Homo sapiens: one gene and its partner. The protein of the gene in region 1 interacts with the protein of each later gene in a pairwise test. Each region holds a gene or a part of one and is shown in the gene's direction. Other genes may lie near its edges.

Region 1 (12,668 bases):
GGTTAGAGCATTTTTTGTTGTTTATTATTTTGAGGGTTTTTTTTTTGTTTTTTGTTTTTTGTTTTTTCAGAGAGTCTTACTCTGTCACCCAGGCTACAGTGCAGTGTTGTGATCATGGTTCACTGCAGCCTCAAATTCTTGGGCTCAAGTGATCCCCCCCACCTCACCCTCCTGAGTAGCTGGGACTATAGGTGCATGCCACCACGCCCGGCTATTTTACTTTTTGTAGAGATAAGGTCTTGCTACGTTGCCCAGGCTGGTCTAGAGCTCCTGACCTCAAGCGATCCTTCCTCCTTGGCCTCCCAAAGTGCTGGGATTACAGGCTTGAGCCAGTGTGCCCAGCCTGATCACACCTTCTTATGCAGGTGCTTTTGGCTCTCATGAAGTTTTAATCAAGCTCTCAGCCAGTGTTGTGGTCTTACCTGAGAAGAATCCACTTACAAGCTCACTCACATTGCTTTTTGCAAGATTTAGTTTCTTGTGGCTTGTTGGACTGTGAGCACTGTTCCTTGCTGGCTGTTGGCCAAAGTCCTCCCTCAGGTGGCCTGTCTGTATTGTACCTTATGACACAGAAGCTAACTTCTCTTTGAGCAAGTGACCAAAAGAATGTTCAAGATGGAAGCCCAGGATTGTAACCTAATCTTGAAAGTGTCATTTCATTATTTTTGCCATATTCTATTCCTTGGAAATAAGTAAGTCCATCCAGCTTACAATCAAGTGAGGAGGCTTACACAGGGGCAAGAGTACCAAGAGGTAGGGATCACTGGGACCATCTCAGAGGCTGTGTTCCACAGGCCTTTACACCCACTCCGGTGTCCTTGGTGGGGTTTGAGTCTTCTTCTCTTCCCCATGGGCCACTCTTTCTGTCCATCCAGATCCATGACTCTTCTCCTTCCCTTCTTTGTTTCCCAGAGTAGGTGCTGTGGGTTCTAGGGCTGGCTGTGTTCAGTGTTTCTGCCTTCACTGGGTAATCTGAACATCTGTTGCCCTAGAGCTTTGCAGGAAAAGGTTAGGATTCGGGAGTTTTTCAGTCTGCTAAGCAGATTCTACACAGCTCAGGTGCCCACTGCCTGAGTCCGTGTCATGATCTTTGCACCTCTTTGTCCTAGATTCTGCCCTCATCCTCTGGCTGACATTTCCTGGGGCCTGACTGTGCCAGGAATTTCAGGGGCTGACACAGTCACTTCTTGTGGTGATTACAGGGCTGTCCTGGTACATCCGCCTTGGAGAGTATTTTTTCTAAACATTCTATTTTCTCTGTGGAGTGGGTCTACCTGCGCCACTCACCTGCCCTTTGTTTGCGTTACAGCTTTCATTTTCCCAGTCCCATGCAGTTGCGCAGTTGGAGGGGGCAGAAAACCTTGGGTGCCTGACAGGGCAGACATCACTGCAGCCACAGTAAAGGAGACCTACAGAGGGCATGGCCCTGCTGAATGGGAGCTGGAAGAGGGTATCTGTTATGGTTGGGTTCAAATCGAACCTTCAACTTGTTTTGTGTTTGTCAGTGTTTTGTTGCCAAGGCCCATAGTGATTCTTCACATCTACTTTACTTTCCTCATTCTTGGCACTTTTTCCATTTGTCATTTCTCACGTGTCTTCCATCCTTTGGGTGTTTTCCCACTTTTCTGGCCTCCGTGTTTCAATTGCTCTCTTCAACACTAGCTTACTTTAATGTGTCATGAGTTCTGCACATTAAATAGTCCGTGAGAATGAGCTACTTATTTGGAGTCAGATTTTCGTGGGCATGGACATACCCATCTGCACAGAGCTCACCTGACACCAGCGGCCAAGGCCCTGCTGAAACTCTCTTGCAGAGGAATCAGGTAGAGGCTTCACCTATACTCCCTATACTCTATGCCATTGTTTTTAGGTCTTTACCTCATAGTCAGGGTTCCTCCATTCTGTGAGGCCCTATACTGACAACCAGCCCTTCTTTACACTGATCCTGGCCCTCTTGTCCTGCCAACAAGCCAGTGGACTCGCACTGGTGTTAGACACACATTTGTGATGGGGCTGCTGCCTCCCACCAAAGTCAGCATGCACTTCACCAGCTCTTTTTTGCTTTCAGGTTTTTGGTGTGAAGCAGAACATGAGGCACCTTCTGAGCAGAGCGTTTCTGTAGAAGGAGTGTCACAGGTCAGGACTGCTGAGTCAGGTCTTTTCCAGAAAGCACACCCATGTGAGATGTGTGACCCACTCTTGAAAGACATTTTGCACCTGGCTGAACACCAGGGATCACACCTTACACAGAAACTGTGCACACGTGGGCTGTGTAGGAGAAGATTCTCGTTCAGTGCAAACTTTTACCAGCACCAGAAGCAACATAATGGAGAGAATTGCTTCAGAGGGGATGATGGAGGGGCCTCATTTGTGAAGAGCTGTACAGTCCACATGTTAGGGAGATCCTTTACGTGCAGGGAGGAAGGGATGGACTTACCAGATAGCTCTGGCCTTTTCCAGCACCAGACCACTTACAATAGGGTGAGTCCATGCAGAAGGACTGAATGCATGGAGTCTTTCCCACACAGCTCCAGTCTCAGGCAACACCAAGGAGACTATGATGGACAGATGCTTTTCAGTTGCGGTGATGAAGGGAAAGCCTTCCTGGACACCTTTACTCTTCTTGACAGCCAGATGACTCATGCTGAGGTGAGACCCTTCAGATGCCTACCATGTGGAAATGTGTTCAAGGAGAAATCAGCTCTTATTAATCACAGAAAAATCCACAGTGGAGAAATATCTCATGTGTGTAAGGAGTGTGGAAAAGCCTTCATTCACTTGCACCACCTAAAAATGCACCAGAAATTTCACACTGGAAAAAGACACTATACATGCAGTGAATGTGGGAAGGCCTTCAGCCGCAAGGACACACTTGTTCAGCATCAGAGAGTTCACACTGGAGAAAGATCTTATGACTGCAGTGAATGTGGAAAAGCCTACAGCAGAAGCTCCCACCTTGTTCAGCACCAGAGAATTCACACAGGAGAAAGGCCTTATAAGTGCAACAAATGTGGGAAAGCCTTTAGCCGTAAAGACACACTTGTTCAGCACCAGAGATTTCATACTGGAGAAAGGCCTTATGAGTGCAGTGAATGTGGAAAATTCTTTAGCCAAAGCTCCCACCTTATTGAGCACTGGAGAATTCATACCGGGGCAAGGCCCTATGAATGCATAGAATGTGGAAAATTCTTTAGCCATAACTCTAGCCTCATTAAACATCGGAGAGTCCACACAGGAGCAAGATCCTACGTGTGCAGCAAATGTGGGAAGGCCTTTGGCTGCAAAGACACACTTGTTCAGCACCAGATAATTCACACTGGAGCAAGGCCTTATGAGTGCAGTGAATGTGGGAAGGCCTTCAGCCGTAAAGACACACTTGTGCAACACCAAAAAATCCACACTGGAGAAAGGCCTTATGAGTGTGGTGAATGTGGTAAATTCTTCAGCCATAGCTCCAACCTTATTGTACACCAGAGAATTCACACTGGAGCAAAGCCTTATGAGTGCAATGAATGTGGGAAATGCTTTAGCCACAACTCCAGCCTCATTTTGCACCAGAGAGTTCACACAGGAGCAAGGCCTTATGTGTGCAGTGAATGTGGGAAGGCTTACATTAGTAGCTCCCACCTTGTTCAACACAAGAAAGTTCACACTGGAGCAAGACCTTATGAGTGCAGTGAATGTGGGAAATTCTTTAGCCGCAACTCTGGCCTCATTCTGCACCAGAGGGTTCACACTGGAGAAAAGCCTTACGTATGCAGCGAATGTGGGAAAGCCTATAGCAGAAGCTCCCATCTTGTTCGTCACCAGAAAGCTCACACTGGAGAAAGAGCTCACGAGTGCAACAGTTTTGGTGGCCCTTTAGCTGCATCTCTTAAACTTGTTTAACACCAGAAAATTCACACAAGAGAAAGGCCTTATGAATGCAGAAAATATGTCATCTTGTTCATCCTCATAGGACTCACACCAGAGCAATGCTCTGTGAGTACCCTTTGTGAGGGAACCATCAGCTAGCAGATGAGCACCGTATATTCATTCCACCCTGGGGAGATTCCTGATAAGCACCACATATGTGGGAGGCTTTCATGAGGTGTGTTGCACTTTGTAACTGTCTAGAGCTCTTGATGGAATTATATCACTGCCAGTGCCTGTGGCGGAAGCCATCTTATTGCTACCAGCTGTGTGTGTCAATCACTCCATTTTGCTCAGGGAAGGCAGACTTCTGTGCTTTCTTTCCTGTTCCCTACAGGTAATCATGAATATTTTCAAGGACTTCCCCCCCCCCCCACTTCACCCCCTACCATTGAGGGTCCTCATCTTTTCCCTCATGATTAGGTTCTGAGCAAACATGATCTAGCTCTCACCAAAAGGACCTGAGCTAGGGTCTGCTGGGATTTCCTGACACGATTTTCCATCTTCATGGACAATGTTAACTGTAAACGTGATAGCTGTGACTTACTTGTCTTACTGCCAAATCGCCCAAATTTGGAACTGCTTGTCCCATGCTGCTCTGATTTATACAGTGATAAGGGCCTATTGTGGCAGTCTTTACTCTTGGGGATTTTGTTACTGTGTAGAGTGGATTGAGAAAAGAATTGGGTTCTGTCATGAAGGGAGTAGCACCTTTTGTGGGCACCACCTTTATGTGCCTCAGAGGGGACCAAAGGATGGCAGAAAACTGTTCTCAGTCTAGTTTGACCTAATTTACACTATTGCCCTAGGCTTGCTAGGAAAGACTGAAAAAATTTTTGTGCCTAACTTTGTGGCCTGGCTGCCAGGATTTCCTGTGAGCCCAGTGAGGAGGGCATAGTTGGTGCGAAAATCTCCTGTGCTTGTGGAAGCAACATAAGTTGGGTCCCTTAACTGTCACGTACTCCCCAGCACTGTTGAGGGATTGCTGTCTTCTGTACCTGTACAGGATCAAGTCCCTGATATCCAGAACCCCATAGGCAAGTAACATTGACTGTAAGACCTCTGTAGGGCAATGTGAAAATCATGATTGCTACAGAAGCACTGAGATAATGGAGTGGGGATGACTGTGGCAAACAAAAGGAGATTCGAACATTCTAGAGGGGCATCCACAAGTCTCGGTGCAGTTATGATGGTGTGGGATGGGAGTGCATAGAAATTCTCAGGACCTTCAGACATCTGTATCTCCTGTGGCCAAGGCCACTGTCAGAGGAAATAATCTAAATGTTTGTGGATTCCTGTGTCTCCCTGGGCAGTTGACCTGCACAGACAGGAACCTCAGCAGTGACAGAAGAGAGATCCAGGGATGGGTCTTCTCTGACCCAGCCAGCATTCCGAGTGACTGAGGTGGATGTGGACATCATTGCTTACCAATTTTTACCAACATTGAGGCAGGGCTCACTCTCCTAAATTGTAGGGAGAGGAATATGGTAAAGCCAAAATAGTTGACAGATCTAACTTTCCTAGTGGAACAGTATATATAGATTTTAATGAGGAACATTTATTTAATAGCTTTATGGAGGTATGATTAACATGCAATAAACTGCAAATATGTAAAGTGTAAAATGTGCTGTTTCAGCATGTGTGTACACCTATGAAACCACCACAGTCAAGATATCCAACACAACAAAAGATTGTCCCTTTATAATCCTCAATTTTTCCTTATCTTGTTTTCCACAATTCACAAGCAACAGCAAGCATTTTCTATAATTTTATAAATGAAACCATATGGTGTGTACTTTTTAGGGGGTGGGGCTCTGGCTTTTTCAGTAAACATAACTATTTTAAGGTTAATCCATTATCTTGTTGCATGAATCAATTGTTTGCTCATTTGTATTGCTGCGTAGTATTTCAGTATTTCATTGTATACCACAATTTTTCTTCTTTGTCAACTTAATTGTTATGGATGTTTGGGTAACTTTCAGTTTTTGGCTATTACAAATAAACCTCTGAAGATTTGTGTGCAAATTATGGCTGAATGATATTCCATTCTATAAATACACCTCAGTTTCTTTATCCATTTACTTATTGAAGGACGGTTGCTTTCAAGTTTTGGCAGTTATGAATAAACCTACTACATATTTGTATAGTTTTTCTGTGGAGATGTTTTCAACTCATTTGGATATGTGCCAAGGAGTGCAATTTTCTCTGTCATATAGCATGTTTAGTCTTGTAAGAAACTGCCAAGCTGTCTTCCAAAGCGGCTGCACCATTTATTTTATTTATATATATTTTTTGAGACAGAGTCTCCACTCTGTCACCCAGGCTGGAGTGCAGTGGTATGATCTTGGTTCACTGCAACCTCCACCTATTTTAGTAGACATGGGTTTTTACCATGTTGGCCAGGCTGGTCTCAAACTCCTGACCTCAAGTGATCACCCTCCTCGGCCTCCCAAAGTGCTGGGATAACGGGGGTGAGCCACTGCAACGGGCTGTGGCTGTACCATTTTTGCATCCAACTAACAATGATTGAACATTCCTCTTGCATCTCATCCTAATCAGCATTTGGCATTTTCAGTATTTTGGATTTTAAAATGCCATTCAAATAGGTGTGTAGTGGTATGCCATTGTTGCTTTTATTTGCAATTCCCTAATAACACACAATAAGTATCTTTTTTAAAGGCAGGGTTGTTTTGTTTTGTTTTGAAATGGAGTCTTGCTCTGTTGCCCAGGCTGGAGTACAGTGGCATGATTTCGGCTCACTGCAACCTCCACCTCCCGGGTTCAAGCGATTCTCCCACCTTAGCCTTCCAAGCAGCTGGGACTACAGGCACCCGCCACCATGCCCAGCTAATTTTTGTATTTTTAGCAGAAATGGGGTTTCGCCATGTTGGCCAGGCTGGTCTCGAACTCCTGACCTCAGGTGATCTGTCTGCCTCGGCCTCCCAAGGTGCTGGGATTACAGGTGTGAGTCACTGCGCCCAGCCTGGCTGGGGTTTTTTTATGTGAGTTTCACACACCTCTGAGTAAGTGGCTTGCAGACAGAGAAGTTAACAACTTTGGCTGTTAGCTTGAACCTGTGATTTATGAATACCAAAAAGACAAATACAGAATCTAAGGAAACACATAACAGTCCTGTATACACACAGCAGCTGGCAGCCCTATTCCCGGTGTGTCCCATATACCTACCATTGACCTGAAACCCAGTTTGTACGTGCTCATTGAACATTTTGTAGAGCAGTAAATACACATCATCACACAGATTGCCTACTCATTTTTATTTTTATTTTTCGAGACGGAGTCTTGCACTGTCACCCAGGCTGGAGTGCAGTGGCGCGATCTCTGCTCACTGCAACTTCCACCTCCTGGGTTCAAGCGATTCTCCTGCCTCAGCCTCCCAAGTAGCTTGGATTACAGGCACCCGCCACCATGCCCAGATAATTTTTGTATTTTTAGTAGAGACAGGGTTTCACTATGTTGGCCAGGCTGGTCTTGAGCTCCTGACCTCGTGATCCGCCCACCTCGGCCTCCCAAATTGCTGGGATTGCAGGCGTGAGCCACCGCACCCGGCCTTCATTTTTATTTTTTGACAAGTGTTTCCATTTGTTATCTCTATCCCTCCAAACAGTTAATAAGCGATGTTTTCAAGTATGAAATAAGAAATACATATAGGAGACAGAAGCATAATGTGTCCAGGTTCCAGCACAGCCAGTCTCAACTTCATTCTTTGACTTCTCAGACTCTTGCTCAAACTCTACTGTAACCTTGCTTTTTCCCCCCTTCACATGTCACAGAGAGATTTCTGTAGGACTATTTCTGCCACTAGTTTTGAAATAACATAATCACTGTTAGTCCAAACTGCACCATCCTGTAAGCCCCCTGCCATCTCACAGACCTTGGTCAGAGTGAAGCATTCCACGGAGTGAGGGCCTTGAGAAACATCCTGCCCAACTGCCTGACTTTCTTATCACATCGTTCTGGGAAAAGATCCAAGGAAGGTCACTATCACATCCTGCCGGATAAAAGGCCAAACTGCCTCAGGAACATCTTACGCACATCCTTTGGCCGGGTGCTGTGGCTCACGCCTGTAATCCCAGCAATTTGGGAGGCCGAGGCGGGCGGATCACCTGAGGTCAGGAATTCCAGACTGGCCTGACCAACATGGTGAAACCCTGTCCCTACTAAAAATACAAAAAAATTAGCCGGGCGTGGTGGCACGCGCCTGTAAAGCCAACTACTCGGGAGGCGGAGTTCAAGAATCGCTTGAACTCCGGGAGGCGGAGGTTGCAGTGGGCCGAGATCACGCCATTGCACTCAAGGCTGGGCGACAAGAGCGAGACTCCTCCAAAAACAAAAAAAAACCCACCATCCTCCTGGGCAGCAAGTCATACCCTCCCGCCGCGCCCCCTGCCCCCCACCCCTGACCCCTCTCATCCAGGCCTATAATTGCCCCAGCCTGTAAGCAGTGAGGGGTTCTGGCACTAAGCTAGTTCTCCCCATCACAGGTCTCGTGCTGGACATAAAACCTGCATTGCTGTAGAGCTGCCAACTCTGCCTTTCTTTAACCCTCGCCTTCCCTTCAAAACCTAACAGTTATTATTAATAGATTTCTGTAATTTTCATTTCACAAGTATTTTCACAGATAATTTCAACTCCCTGTAAAATGATAACTCACTTCTCAGGAAGGAGATAAGATCATGAAAGTTCACAGTTTTTATTGGGGATAATACGTTCCCTGTGTACATATACTCCAACTATGGAATGGCACAAAATGTCCTGTCAGGAAATGGCATGTATCAGTCACTCTCATTTTCAGACAGGATTGAGACTTTTAAAATAAATGTAAAATATTTCAGACATGAAGTAATAAGTATTATTAGAATAAAAGCATTGCACTCTTGGTAGGAACACAATCACTGACTCTACAGACAGTAATGATGTTTTCTTCTGGATCCAGAGGCACAGCGTCACCCTTTCAATCTACGTCGGTATCTCCTGTCTTCTTTTGTGCAAATTCCCAGCCATGTAGTCTTTCTTTGTTCTCTTGGACCAACCATATTGAAGCTTAATAAATAGAAGTCAAAGTTTAACTGTATGTGTATTTGAAAAGCAACATATGGCTGAGAGGCATGAGTAGAGACAGAGTGCCTTTGTGGTATAGTGTGTCCCTTTGGCGGTGTAGCCGTTGAGAACTTGCTGTGCTTCACAATCCGATATCATAGGTCCCTCACATTTCTGTGAGTATCCTAGACCTTACTTCAAGAAAATCTGGTTATGTCGCCTTTAAGAGCAACCCAAGCCCCGTCCTGTCCGTGGAGTCCGGCACTCTGTTTACCAGCTCCCCTGACGGTGCCACTGAGCCTCTATCCGCCATATAAGGACTGACCAACGCTCTAAGGCAAGTCCAGAAGCGGTGTCGAAACTTCATAACCCAGAAGACACTGCGGTTCTCGGCAGCGCGACTGACCCAATGAATGTGCAGGAAGGAACCTTTGCGTGCGTGCGTGCGTGCGTGCGTCCGTCCTCGTGCTCGCGCATCGTAGGAGGGCGGGACTTCCGGCGTCCTCTTGCCGTGGTTGATTTGATTTTCTCTGGTGTTTTCACTAGTTCCGGCCTTTGGCGCTCTATGACGTCACCGAAGTGACGGAGCGGAAAAGCGCGAGAAGCGGCTTGGTTCCTTGTACGCAGAGGCGGTAGTGACACAGGCACAACTGACAGTGGCAGAAGCTCAGCTGACAAGGACTGGGGACGGCGGTGTCCTTGTCTTGCCTTTGTCGCCCCCGCCCCTCTCTTCCCTGGCTGGACTTGCGGAGTCCCCGCCGAAGAACCCGAGGTGGGTGCCCCGTCCCAGGCCCCCCCCCACCTCCGCCCGACCCCTCCTTCCAGTGCTGAAGCCCATAGAAGGGGCCCTGCAGGTCAGGCCCCTTGTCTCGAAGAGAGGGGCGTTCCTGTGTGGGGTCCCCGTATCAGCTGGTTTGATGCAGCCTCAGAGCTCCCTTCGGGGATCTCAGGTTCAGAGCATGGAGGTGCTGCCAAGTGGGCCGCGTCGGGGAGCCCGGAGTGTGGGTTGTTTCTGCGGGAAAGAGAGGGTTTTGTGAATTTTCTCTTGGAATGGCAGCCTGAGCAGCCGGTATAACCATGGAAGGTTGTCAAGGGAAGACCAGTGGGAGGGGCAGGTCCAGAGTTAGAACGAGCAGGATGGGGAATTGACACAGAGAGACCCAGAAGAGGCCACTGCAGTGGATCCCAGAGGCTGCACCAGAGCCGTGGTATAAGAGGGACAATGTGATGGGATTCTGGATAGACCTGGAAGATAGAGCCAACAGGTTTTCCTGCCGTATCAGATATGTCTGTGAGCAAAAATAGGGAGTGAAGGGTCATTTTTTTTTTTTTGCCCGAACATCTGAAAGAATGAAGTTGGGGAAGTCAGCAGCATGAGAAGTAGGTTTCATGGAGAAGATCATGGGTTGGAGTTTGGCCAGTGTGATTCTCAGGCGTCTCAAGTTGAAAATGTCACATGGGTAGGGGGACAGAAAGGTGTGGAGTCTACAGAGGAGAACTGGTGTAGATTCTTCAAAAGAATAGAGGGTGGCCGGGCGTGGTGGCTCACGCCGGTAATCCCAGCACTTTGGGAGGCCAAGGCGAGCGGATCACAAGGTCAGGCGTTCAAGACCAGCCTGACCAACATGGTGAAACCCCGTCTTTAGTAAAAATACAAAAATTAGCCGGGGGTGGTGACGCGCGCCTGTAATCCCAGCTATTCGGGAGGCTGAGGCAGGAGAATTGCCTGAACCCAGGAGGTGGAGATTGCAGTGAGCCAAGATCGCGCCATTGCACTCCAGCCTGGGCGACAGAGCGAGATTCCGTGTCAAAAAAAGGTGCGGAGCGCGGGTCTCTTCCGCGGAAACTGACATTGCGTTTCCGTTGTCGGCCTCCCGCTGCAGGAGCCATATATTGAAGACCATGTCTGGAAGCTTCTACTTTGTAATTGTTGGTCACCATGATAATCCAGTTTTTGAAATGGAGTTTTTGCCAGCTGGGAAGGCAGAATCCAAAGACGACCATCGTCATCTGAACCAGTTCATAGCTCATGCTGCTCTCGACCTCGTAGATGAGAACATGTGGCTGTCGAACAACATGTACTTGAAAACTGTGGACAAGTTCAACGAGTGGTTTGTGTCAGCATTTGTCACCGCGGGGCATATGAGGTTTATTATGCTTCATGACATAAGACAAGAAGATGGAATAAAGAACTTCTTTACTGATGTTTATGATTTATATATAAAATTTTCAATGAATCCATTTTATGAACCCAATTCTCCTATTCGATCAAGTGCATTTGACAGAAAAGTTCAGTTTCTTGGGAAGAAACACCTTTTAAGCTGAATGGAGAAAATTCCAAAATAAATTATATCACCACAATGGTGTATACTCAGGAATGTGTACATTGTAAATTACTTGATTAAATAGCCTGGAAATCTTTTGTGTATTCTCAGCTTATCTAAACTTAATGAAATTTCTTTTATATTTAAAAATAGTACATTCTGTCTCATGTCACATATCAGTAGATCAATTAGTATTTCCTTGTGAACAATGTTATTTATAAAGAACTCATTATCAATAATAATTAATTTCTTTCTTTTTTTTTTTTTTTTGAGACGGAGTTTTGCTCTTGTTGCCCAGGCTGGAGTGCAGTGGCACAGTCTCGTCTCACTGCACCCTCCGCCTCCCAGGTTCAAGCAATTCTGCCTCAGCCTCCCGAGTAGCTGGGATTACAGGCTCCCACCACCATGCCTGCCTAATTTTTTTTGTATTTTTAGTAGAGACGGAGTTTCGCCATGTTGGTCAGGCTGGTCTTGAACTCCTGACCTCGTGATCTGCCTGCCTCGGCCTCCCAAAGTGCTGGGATTACAGGCATGAGCCACCACTCCCGGCCATGAAATATTTTTACTTAAAAATTGGGAATAAGCTTTCTTTTTCTTTCTTTCTTTCTTTTTTTTTTTTCTTTTGAGATGGAGTCTGGCTCCTGTTGTGCAGGGGCTGGAGTGCAGTGGCACGATCTTGGCTCACTGCAACCTCCACCTCCCGGGTTCAAGCAATTCTCCTTCTTCAGCCTCCCAAGTAGCTAGGATTACAGGCATGCACCACCACGCCTGGCTAATTTTTGTATTTTTAGTAAAGACGGGATTTCACCATATTGGTCAGGCTGGTCTTGAACTCCTGACCTCGTGATCCGCTCGCCTCGGCCTCCCAAAGTGCTGGGATTACAGGTGTGAGCCACTGCGCCTGGCCATGAAATATTTTTTACTTAAAAATTGGGAATAAGCTTTTTTGTGTGTGTGTGTATGTTTTTGTTTTTTTGTTTTTGAGATGGAGTCTTGCTCCTGTCATGCAGGCTGGAGTGCAGTGGCACGATCTTGGCTCACTGCAGCCTCTGCCTCCCGGGTTCAAGCAGTTCTCCTTCCGCCTCCAGAGTAGCTGGGATTACAGGCATACGCCTGGCTAATTTTTGTATTTTTAGTAGAGACAGGGTTTCGCCATTTTGGCCAGGCTGGTCTTGAACTCCTGACCTCAGGTTATCTGCCTGCCTCGGCCTCCCGGAGTGCTGGGATTACAGGTGTGAGCCACTGCGCCTGGCTGGGAATAAGCTTTCGACTTGCCCAATTCAGATAAATTGTTTTTTTTTTTTTTTTTTTTGACGTGGAGTTTTGCTCTGTCGTCCAGGCTGGAGTGCAGTGGCGCTTGGCTCACTGCAACCT
Region 2 (11,845 bases), on another chromosome or scaffold:
AACTTAGGTTCGAAGAAGTTAAGGAATGTCTGATGTTACCCAGATAGGAATGGTAGAATAGAGATTTGAACCCAGGTCTACTTTTATCTTTTTACATTTTTATTGAATTTTATTTTTTACTCTACTTTGAGATTGAGGAATAAATTAAGACAGGGCTCATCCTCAGTCAGAGAAGATGGTGGTGGGCAAAGAATAAGGAAGGGAGAGGCATTGAGAGCATTAATTTGTTTGTTCACTTGGTAAGCATTTAGAATGCCTGCTAGGTGGCACAATATGTGCCACAGTCTGGCTTCCCTTAAGGGGATACTGTTTTATAGTCTGACCAGGGAACAGTTTTCTGAAGTTTTAAGCATGCAAAAGAAATGAGACTGTTTATTTCCAGACGAGCCCAAGATTCTTATTTCTTTTTATCTTTAAATTCAAGTTCAAATCTTTTTTTTTTTTTTGAGATGGAATCTCGCTCTGTGACCTAGGCTGGAATGCAATGGTGCGATCTCGGCTCACTGTAACTTCCTGCCTTCCAGGTTCAAGCAATTCTCCTGCCTCAGCCTCCCAAGTAGCTGGGATTACAGGCGCCCCACCATGCCTGGCTAATTTTTTTGTATTTTTAGTACAGATGGGGTTTTACCATGTTGGCTAGGCTGGTCTCAAACCCCTGACCTCAGGTGATCCACCCGCCTCGGCCTCCCAAAGTTCTGGGATTACAGGCATGAGCCACCGTGCCCGGCCTCAAGTTCAAATCTTGAATTAGAAGACATTTGATTATTGGAAAACTGATACCTTTCAAATTACTCATTTTACAGACAAAACGCTGCTTTTTCTGTTTTGGGAGCTTATTGTTAACAGGGATAGCTAGCAGAATAGCAGTACATGGGGTGGAAGAAGGAGAGGTTTTACTTTTATTGTTTAGGCTTGACAGATAATGTTCCCCCTGCCACCTGTGTTACTTTCTTTCAGCTCTTATAAAATAAGAGCCATCCACTTCCATGGAAACAAGTCACTTTATCTTGAAGGTTTCCCTTTAGCTTGCCTGGAAGGGAGTGAGGGCCTGTTGGATGTGCCTTTAATGATTTCAAATGAATAGGATAATATTTACTTGTTTAATTCATCTTCATCACCTTAAAGGGATATTTATCATTTCTAGAAGAGGTCACCGCTCTGCCCCCCTTCTTCCCCCTCCCCCATCTCTCTTCTGCTTTTCTAAATTGTAATCATAAATAATGAGTTTCATTCACAGCTCCCTGCCAGTGAGCTGCTAATTACACAAAGTACTGCTTGTAATTTACACAGTAATAAACTGTAAATTTAAACATTACGGCACTTTAAGTTAATAATTTTTCTGCTGTAACAAATAGCTCATTTTTCACCCATCTTTTCCCTTGGCCCCCCTACCATGTCTGTCTGTGACCAGGAGGCATAGCTATAAGAAATGCAGAACATGAAGAATATAGTATATGAAAACTTCTCATTTAACTCCACTACCGCCCGGACTCTGACCTCAGAGTAATTTTTCTACAGCCAGTTCTGCTGAAATGTGTAGCCTGATGTTTAGCACGGTCCACACACATAGATGAATATAGACACAAATGTGTTTGAAGAACAGCCTTGATGTTCTTGGCATTCACGCCCGTGACTTGTGTTCTCTCAACACAACAGTTACTCAGATGTGTGTTGGTATGCTTTCCCAGGTGCCATGGTAGGTAAGCATTGTGAATGTACTCAAGTTAAATGAAGAGTGAATTGCCGTTTTCCAATTTTTTGGAAATGGTTCGTTTCTGAACTCTTTGTGGTGTTATGGGTAAGCTTTTACACTATAATCTTGAGAACCCTGAATTTAGGAATCAATTTTATACAAATTTCTATTTTTATTTCATGAGATGATGTTTGAGGGACAAAGTACAGAGTAACAATTTTTGCAAGTCACAAAATTCTCTTGATGTATTTATATTTAGTCAGCAGATATTTACATTTTACCAGTGAGGATTTGGTAATGTCCCAGGATGAAGGCTGTTGGAACTATAATCAAATCACGTAGCTCTCTAGGAAGCTTGGTGTGTTGGCCTGTTAAAAATTGGCTACTGTTGAATTTTCTAAAAAAGGATTTTTACTCCTATATACTTCAGTAGTTACAGGAGGTATAGTACTTATTAAAATACCATATATGGTGAACAGTGTCTATGATGTATTTATAAAGACTTTTGGATCACTGGAGAATAATAAATGTAGGGTAACATGTAATACTTTTAAGATGGATTCCAATAAAAAGAAGTATAGTTGCTGTTTTATTTTAAGATTGACTTTTAACATGTGCCTTTTGAGGTTGCCTTAGCTGGCACAGTTATGGGAAAGATTGATATTGTACTTTATATGTTTGTTTCTGTGGTTGGATGATACTCTTGTCTGCCTTTTCTTTTTAGGAGACCAGCATAAACACTTTGGGGACTGAGAGGATAAGCCATATCATTAGTGACCCTCGGCAGAAAGAGTAAGTGCTTATGTATTTACTGGCTGTGCTAGTCTGCTCCTTGGAGGAGGAGGCAGAGGGGAGTTTTATGGAGCAACTTAGAAATCAGGCTTCAGAGTTCAAAGAGATCTTAAAGATTTGTACGTTGTAACAGTTAAATATGGCAACATCCTAAACCTGTGGCAGTGATTTTCTTTTCCTTTCTAGACTAGTTTCACTGTATTGTTTTTTTATACCTACAGATGCTGCATTAGTAGCCTCCAGTAAAGATGTTTATTTTAAACTAATTTTTCTGTCCCTAAATTTTTTTTTTTCCAAAATGGATGATTGCCTCTATCCTCCTATATTCTCTTCCCATTTTTAGACCTTTTCATAGGGAAATATCTGTTTTTTTGAGACAGGGTCTGGCTCTGACGCCCAGGCTGGAGTGCAGTGGCAGAGTCATGGCTCACTGCAACCTCTGCCTCCTAGGCTCAAGCAATCCTCCCACTTTGGCCTCTTGAGTAGTTGGGACTACAGGCGCATGCTGCTGCGCCTGTCTAATTTTTGTATTTTTTGTAGAGACAGAGTTTAGCCATGTTGTTCAGGCTGGTCTTGAACTCCTGGGCTCAAGCGATTTGCACACCTTGGCCTCCTAAAGTGTTGGGATTACAGGTGTGAGCCGCTGCGCCCAACCTGTGAAATATCTTTTTGTTCTAATTACTGTGGTGAGTGCTGTAGGAAGCCTGTATGTAGCTACAGGAAAATAATTCTGCCAATTCTTGTGACAGCCTTGTCCCCTAAAATGGTTGGTTCTTTCATATATCTTGTATGCATCATGGTCAGTACCCAGTTATGATCCTATACACATCCAACTCGGGCTAATTTTACATAGAAAATAAAGATGTGGGTGTGGTTTATGCCCTTCATGAGTTGAGACTCTTGTCACTGCACAGCTGAGAGATCATTGGTGTCACAGTGTAATCTTGGGTTTATTTCTGTTGTTCAGTCTTTTACATTCCATTACAAGCCTTTTTCCTTTGAAGAGGTTTTTTTTTGTTTTTGTTTTTGCAAAACATTCACATACATTTAATCTCTTTCTCCTCCTCTGATTACATCTTTTCTCTATTCCCTTCTTTGTCTTTACTTAATTATTCCAACATCTTATCTTCTTCTCCCTTCTGTAATTTTCCTATCACTTCTTTTATTGTTTTCTTTCCTGTTATTCTCTCCCTCTCTTTAGTTTCTGGTTACCATCAGCTGGGAAAAGAGAACGAAATCAGGTAAGATCATTTTTCTTTGTCATCTTTATTTTATCATTTGGTTTCCTTTTCTTTAGAAAGAATAAAGCGTTGGCTTCTGATTTTCCTCACATTTCTGCTTGTGCACATGAGGTAAGGTTTCCTCTTTCTTGTTATTTTGATTTTCTTGGAGAACCGTTTTCTAAGAGTATCCAACACTTACTGGTAAAAACTGCAGCTAATTCCTCTTTGTAGGTTCAACTGTGATCATTAGTTTCTTGTAGCATATATTTCATAGGAATCCTGTTTTTATTTTAGTTTTGAACTTTGCAGTAAGAAAGCAGAATGAATCTGATTTGCATATGGTTTAGTTCAACATCAGAATCCTGCGTTGAGAAGTACTATGTTGAAGCCTAAACGTATGGAGCAGAAGGTAGAGCTGCTTTGGGTGAAGTGGGGTCAAAGCCTTAGAGCAGTGGTCCCCAACCTTATGTCACCAGGAACCATTTTTGTAGAAGACAGTTTTTCCATGGACCCGGGTTGGGGGCGTGGTGAGGGGGGTGGTTTTGGGATGATTCAAATGCATTACATTTATTGTGTACTTTATTTCTGTTGTTATTACATTGTAATATATAATGAAATAATTATACAACTGGTCATAATGTAGCTTGTGCTCCTGCAACTACACAGTCCCACCTGGGGGTGATGGGAAACAATGACAGATCATCAGGCATTAGGCTTTCATAAGGTGTGCACAACCTAGGTCCCTCTCATGCTCGGTTCACAGTAGGGTTTGCACTCCTATAAGAATCTAATGTGGCTGTTGATCTGACAGGAGGTAGAGCTCAGGCGGTAATGCCCACGATGGGGAGCAGCTGCTTGCTGACAGCTCACCTCCTGCTGTGCGGCCCCGGGGTTGGGGACCCCTGCCTTAGAGCCTCTCCTTCTTAGTCTTTTCCCTGGCTACCCCCTGAGGGGCCCCTTGGCATATTTAGGCCCATGTGGAGGGCTCACAATTTAAAAATTAACTCACAGTGGTTATCGATATGTTTCTTTATGTGTGAAGCTTTGTGATTTTTTTGGAGGATTGCATTATCTTGGTGATTAGTTGTAAAATAGATGAACACTGACAGGTGAAAAGTTGTAGGCTTCCTGTTTGTTGTGGGTTTTTTTGTTTTTTTTTTTTAACAACTTAGTAGCTTACTGAGTTGATATACACGATCCACATTTTAGACTTGGAATCTTCATTATGAATTTGCTGTTTCAAAATGAACTAGAGTGGTAGAAGACATAACTGGTGTATATGTATGAGATGATTTTAGATGGCATATAGATGCCCAATTTTTAAGTTATGTATTATAGTGTACATTGGAAAAGATGTAATTATGGTATCAAGCCTGTTATTTCACGGAAATATAGTAAGGACAAAGCTGAGCAAAAATAATTGATATGAGGAAAAATAATAAGTAAACAGTAGTACAGGTTGTAGGCAGATAAGGAAAGTCATGAAGGTGGTATGTGAGAGACTGCAGTTTGGGGAACACTAAGCTAGAGCACTAATCATGTTTGCATCAGAGGATCCAAAGGCAGAAGGGGACCTGTGGCAGTCACCTGATCCAGATCCGTTATTTGCAAATGACGAACTGGAGATCTGTAAGATTCAAACTATTTGCCCAAAGTGATACAGCTAATAGAACCAAGATTGGAACCTCTGTGGCAGATAGAACAGTTGCTTAGTTTGTATTCTCATAAAACAAGTTTGAAGTTATCATTCCGGGTTCTTCCAGTCTTTGTATGTCAGAGGGTATTAAGTTCTAAACTTTTTAGAGAGGACTGTTATGTTGTGGGAAAAGTCCAAAGAAAGCTAGCAAACATAAAGTGAGGGATCTCCTTTGATCCTCACAGCCACCTTTTGAAGTCAAATAGATGTTTTGCAGATGAGAAACTGAAATTATACTCTGAAAGCAATATTTCATTTAGCCCTCATAATAACCCTGTAAAATAGGTAGGGCAGGCCTGGCACAGTGGCTCATGCTTGTAATCCCAGCACTTTGGGAGGCTGAGGCAGGTGGATCACCTGAGGTCAGGGGTTCGAGACCAGCCTGGCCAACATGGCGAAACCCTGTCTCTACTAAAAATACAAAAAAAAAAAAAAAATTAGCTGGGTGTGGTGGTAGGCGCCTGTAATCCCAGCTACTTGGGAGGCTGAGGCAGGAGAATTTTTTGAACTCGGGAGGTGGAGGTTGCAGTGAGCTGAGATCACACCACTGCACTCCAGCCTAGGTGATGGAGTGATTAGGTAAGACAGATAGTGATATATTCATTTAACAGATAAGGATAGTAAAGCTCAGAGGTTATGTAATTTTTAACACCCAGTATCTCAGTGGTAGATTGGAACTAAAAGGTGTTCTGATTCTTAGTCTAGTTCTCTTTCCACAATACTATGCTGCTGTTATGTGTCAACCGGTTATTCTTGGAAACATTTGCCAGGATAAGGAAATGAAAAGGTAATTTCATGCTAATCTTCTTGGGAACAAGGGCTGATACATAGTTGATAATCAGCAGGCACAAGTTCCTGTTATATCATGTGGAAAAAACTGTCTTCTGCCATTTAAGTGACTATTGTATGTCAGAAGTTTTTGAAAAATTGTTGTTTAATAAGGAATAGCTTTTTTTTTCCGAGGTGTGCTAGATCAGGTTTGGTACATTCATAGGCAAACTATGAAATATGTGTGACTTTACTGAACAGTGCCTGTGTTTGGTATAACAAGAGTTGGATAGTCAAAGGGGAAAAGTAATCAAATGTAGGTTACCCTTTAGGATCAGGTCCGTTTCATGTAAGCCTTACTAAAATAGTCTTATTCATTCCTGCAGTTCAATCCCCTGTCTCCCCTTTACTCCCTGGATGTTCTTGCCGATGCTTCTCACCGAAGGTGTTCACCAGCACACTGCTCTGCCAGGTAATTGTCTTTTAGTAGCGGTTATTTGCTTCTGGACAATACTATATTCCTTTCTATTACCCCTCAAATTATAGAGTATGCTTGTGTACAGTATCCAATTTGATCCTGACAATCTTTTGAGGTAAATAGATGTTTTACAGATGTAGAAACTGAGGCAGAGCAGTGAAGTATCTTTCCTGTGGTCCAAGGCTAGTATGTGATTAAGTCTCAACTTTGACCTAAGTCTTCTGGCTCATATTTCATTTTATTTCTGCTGCTAAAAGCCCCATCTTCAAACAACATTATTAATGTTCCTTGCCATGAGCCTGCAATACCCTGCATAATCTGACTTCTCCCTACATGTACAGCCTCCTTTCGTATAATTTTCTCCCTCTGTGGGAGAGAGATCCAGCAGTACTAGGGAGTTCTGTTTTGTTCTTCAAAAATTGCAGCAGTCCTTTCCTGCCGCTGAAACTTTGCACTTCTTCCCTTTGACTGGAAAACTGTCTTTGAGCTGCTGCTTGTCTCAGCTCAGGTGCCACCTCGTCAAGGAGGACCACTCAGACCATCCCGTCTAAGGGGCCACCTCCAGCACTTCCTGCTCGTTATCTGTTTGTTTCCTTTATGGCTCTATCACAGTCTGAATTGGATTTGCTTATTAGTTTATTTTAGTTGGTTTGGTTTTTCTTTTTTAATTTTTTTCTTTTTCACTTTATCCCTCAGTCTCTCCCACTAGAATATAAGCTTCAAAGTACTGGGATGTTGTCTTGTTCCCTGATAACTTCATAACACCTAACACAGTATCTGGGACTTGTTAGGCATTAACATATATTAGTCAAACGAGTGACTCCTTACAAATATAAATTCTTTTAGGTGACATGGGAAGTAAATATGGTTTTAATTGTAGCACCCCCTACAGGGCTGTTATGCAGAAAAGAGTAGCTAATAGGCTGGACCCTAGAAGTTGTACTGTTTCTGGTGGCACAAAGAATTTCTTTCCAAGGTTCTGATGACTCTTTTTTATTCCTAATAAGTTCTTAAATGGTTATGTTCATAGCTTTTGAGGTTCAGGCTGCACAAAGAAGTTACTTTCATGGATACAGTTAGAACTTCTACTATGGGCTATAATAATAAATTTTGCACCATAACCTACTGCCAGGTCTTTCTACTGAAGAAGTGGTATTTCTGTATGGAATGTCTTTTGAAAAGAGAGACCATCACAAATGGTGTTATTAAGAATGTTGAACTGCCGGGCGCGGTGGCTCACGCCTGTAATCCCAGCACTTTGGGAGGCCGAGGTGGGCGGATCATGAGGTCAGGAGATCGAGACCATCCTGGCTAACACGGTGAAAACCTGTCTCTACTAAAAATACAAAAAATTAGCCAGGTGTGCTGGCGGGTGCCTGTAGTCCCAGCTGCTCAGGAGCCTGAGGCAGGAGAATGGCGTGAACCCGGGAGGCGGAGCTTGCAGTGAGCTGAGATCGCGCCACTGCACTCCAGCCTGGGGGACAGAGCGAGACCCCGTCTCAGAAAAGAAAAAAAAAAAAAAAAAAAAAGAATGTTGAACCAGAGTGAGACCTTGTTTCTACAAAATTTTTTTTTTTTAAATCATTTGTGTCTGGTGATGTACACCTGTAGTCTCAGCTACTTGGGAGGCTGAGGTGGGAGGATCACTTGAGCTCAGGAGGTCAAGGTTGTAGTGAGCTGTGATGATGCCACTGCACTCTAGCCTGGATGACAGAGTGAGACCCTGTCTCAAAAAAAAAAAAAAAAAAAAAGAAAAGAATGTGGAAAATTGTGGAATGATATAAACTATTAGTAGTAAGGCCTTTCCTTCAGTAGCATGATGTTTATTCATCATTAATTCATTCAGCGTTTGCTGGAACCCTACTATGAGCCAGCTCTTTGTTTAGATACTGCCCTCAAGGAGCTTACATTCTCATGGGAAAGTCAGGTATGGAAGTTGACAACTACAATAAAGGTTTGAAAAAGCACAGAGGAGGGGCCCCTAATGTCAAGGCTCAGGGAGATCTTTTTAGAGGTGGTTGTGCTCAAGCTGTCATAGAAGACAACAGGATTTTAATCCATAGGAAAACAGTCCTTTAGCTTTTTGTCTTAATACCAAATAAAATAATGTCTGTGTATACTGTTTGGGAAAATGATTTGAGTAGCATGATATCATGTCAGAATGCTGAAAGTGGATTACTTTCCCTCCTCTCTTTACCTCTGCTACCTAGAGCTGTGCTGTGCTGAGATCAGTATTCGTACTTTTGTCAGGTTTCCTGTTTCCTTTAAAAGCCTTATCCTGTGGCTGGACTAGGCATCAGCTTCTTGTTTCTTTGTGTATCTCATTATCCATACCACTGTCTTCACTCTTTTGCCTGGCAGTGTTTGTGGCTGAACTTGGAAACCTGAGGAAGTCTCTACTATGCTTCTGGTATGCTCAGCTCTAGGGTAATATTGCTTATTGTTTTAGACCATTGCTGAAAGCAAAGGAAAGAGAATGTGGACAATCATGCATCGTCTTTGTCCTTACTTCTAGACGTCATACCCAGGGCAGTAGATACCAAGTGGGTTGCATACATGAAGGTTCTTTGGGAAAGGGAAAGAAAATTTTTAAACTTACATTTATTTATAGCAAAAAAATTATAGCAAAATTTTTTTTGTTTTAAATTATACATATGTGTCTAGTAGCACGTATTTATATTTTATGTATATGTACTACATACATAATTTTTTTTCAGATTTTTTACTCATGAGGGTGCACCTCAATAAAGCTTGGCAACCACTGCTTCATGGGAAATGATCAGCGCAAGTGACTTCTATGCAATTTTTAGAAAATGTGAATGATGACATACTGAGCTCTCAGGGCAACTGGTCACTCCTTTGTAATCGTTCCTCCCCAGCAAGGGGTTAGTGAAGATGGAACCGTCTAGCTCCAGTGTGGCAGACTGATGAGATTGGATTCAGAACTGGGCAGTAGGCTTTGCAAAGAGTGGATCATTTAGCAAAAGCCTGGCACCAAGGAGGAGTGTGAAGGAGTAGTGGCAGGGAAGAGGCAGGTGAATGACTATACTAAAAACTGTTTCCAGTGGAAATTGTGTCTTTTTCTTGTCCCATTTTATTTGTAGTAGGGAAACATTTCTTTCAAAGCACCTGGGCAGCATTGGAAATTTCACATGCATCATTAGCATGGTGTGTGTGTGTGTGTGTGTGTGTGTGTGTGTGTGTGTGTGTGGCGACAATGTTATCATTAGTGGTATAATTTTATTTTGCAAAGAGAGAAGTGTTTCCTGTTTTATCACAGCTTTCCCCGAGGAGGGCTGGTGTATTAATTTGCTGTATTGCCTCCTGGCTGTTCCCAGGCTGTTTTTCCTCTTCATCATGGAATTTTTAATGGCCCTACTGCCTCTTGGGAAGCATGTGAGGAAGAGTTCCTCAGGGAGTGCTTCCCTTTTTTCACATGCCTATAATTACTCTCCTTTAAGAGCACAAAGAGTTTGATAATCATGCCTGAACTATGAAGGTTCCCTCCTGTCAGGTTACTGAGCTGAGGCTGCTTCTTGCCTGGACACTGCCAATTCCATTCTCCTAAGCAAGAGCAAGGGCTTTTCAACAGTTTCCTCCCTGCTAGAACCATATGCCCTTCTGGTTCTCAGAATAGGTGGGGGCGGGGGGCATTGGGAGGATGGTGCATGACCTAAAATCCTCTCTTGTTTAATATTTCATTGCTATAAACAAATAAATAATTGGACCATAATATTAAAATAACATTTTATTGATGTAGCGTTATAATACAGCCCAGATGACAGGTGCAGTGGATGGGAGGGAGAGTTTTGTGGTCTTTGTACCATCTAATAGATTTGTGGATTTCAGGAATAGCACTCTGGAAATAGTTAACTTGGTGGTTTTCAACCCTGGCTGCAAGTTGGAATCACCTAAGAAGCTTTAAGAAAATATATCCGTGCTGGGCCCCACTTCCAGAGATTCTGATTTAATTGGTCTGGGATAAGGCCTAGACATTGGCATTATTTTAAAGCTCCCTAGGTGATTAATATGCCAGCCAGGGTTAAGAACTGTTGTCCTAAATGCATATGGTTTTGTGACTGGTGCTTTGTAATTTGCTTAATAGGGTCTCCCCTTTCATAATTGGTGCAAACTCTGTACTTTGGTATGGTATGCACCATTCCTTACGGGAGGTAGACCTCTGGACTTCTCTTAGCTTTGGAGAACCTACTGCAGGTAGAGAAGAGTGTTAGTATCTGCACGGTGCCCAGCACATAGTTCTTAATAAATGGATCAGGGGCAGAGTTTTGTCAGGTGGATATATGGATAGTTGGATTGTTGGCTGGGTGTGTAGATGAAATCCATAAACCAAGTGTTTTGGTTTGGTTGTTTTGGTTGCTAGTATTGGGATTTGCTGTTAAAGGTGTGATACCTGGTATTGGTGTTAAGAATTGCTGCTGCCCAAACAGCAGATGGTGTGATTGGCGTTCTGGTAGAGGCAGTGGTATTGTTAAGGGCACAGTCACAAACTTGTAATAAGAAGACTAGTGCTGCAAGCAGTTTTTCCCAAAATGAGAGATTTGTTGATTGTGAAGGATAGTTTTTCTTACTATTATTACCAAAGAAAATGATAGCTAGGATTTATCAATTGCTACATACAGGTCAGTTGCATCTATGTGATTCATCAATCACCAGTTGCAGTTTTTGAGTGCAAAAACTTTTCATGGCAGTGTTTTAGTTTTCTCCAACTCAAAGGAAAGGTCAACTTTTAGTGACCTTTCCTTTATTTTGGAAGATAATTTGGTCAAGCATTACCATTTTAATTTATTCTTTCTTTAAGCTCTGAAATAGCAAAGCACTGATATCTTCTTTTCATATAGGTCAGCTTCCTTTGTAAATAAACTGTTTTTTCTTTGAGAAATCTTATTTTTAGTTGTGGTAAGGATGGCAGATATCAGCCTGGTATGCAAATGTTATACGTGTTTCTTAATGAATGGATGAAAAGTTTCATAGCTTCTACTTTCTTCATAGTCCATTGGCATAGGTGGTAGGAGATTAAGAGTGTAGATATTAGTGTCAGGCAGACCTGGGCGAGAATCCGGGCTTTACCCAGGCAAATGACTTAATCTTCCCATACCTCAATTTCTACATCTTTAAAATGGAAATATCAATACTTTTTAAATTGGTTGAATGGGGACCAAAATGAAATAATATAT

What was found.
Region 2: the proteins of ZNF547 (region 1) and GPATCH2L interact in binary tests that used the Homo sapiens proteins (3 or more experiments, as listed by UniProt).

Annotation. Positions count from the first base shown.
Region 1 is NC_000019.10:57,353,962-57,366,629, forward strand, and holds the start of ZNF547 (zinc finger protein 547), read left to right. Parts: upstream 1-9,589; 5' UTR 9,590-9,742; intron 9,743-10,853; exon of another isoform or gene 10,854-10,872; coding exon of another isoform or gene 10,873-11,295; exon of another isoform or gene 11,296-11,444; intron 11,445-12,668. Other genes in the region: ZNF304 (zinc finger protein 304), read left to right, coding at 1,310-1,450, 2,069-3,888; TRAPPC2B (trafficking protein particle complex subunit 2B), read left to right, coding at 10,873-11,295. UniProt on the Homo sapiens protein: May be involved in transcriptional regulation.
Region 2 is NC_000014.9:76,174,206-76,186,050, forward strand, and holds part of GPATCH2L (G patch domain-containing protein 2-like), read left to right. Parts: exon of another isoform or gene 1-1,315; intron 1,316-2,417; coding exon 2,418-2,485; intron 2,486-3,686; coding exon of another isoform or gene 3,687-3,782; coding exon 3,783-3,837; coding exon of another isoform or gene 3,838-3,939; exon of another isoform or gene 3,940-5,817; intron 5,818-6,558; coding exon 6,559-6,644; intron 6,645-11,845.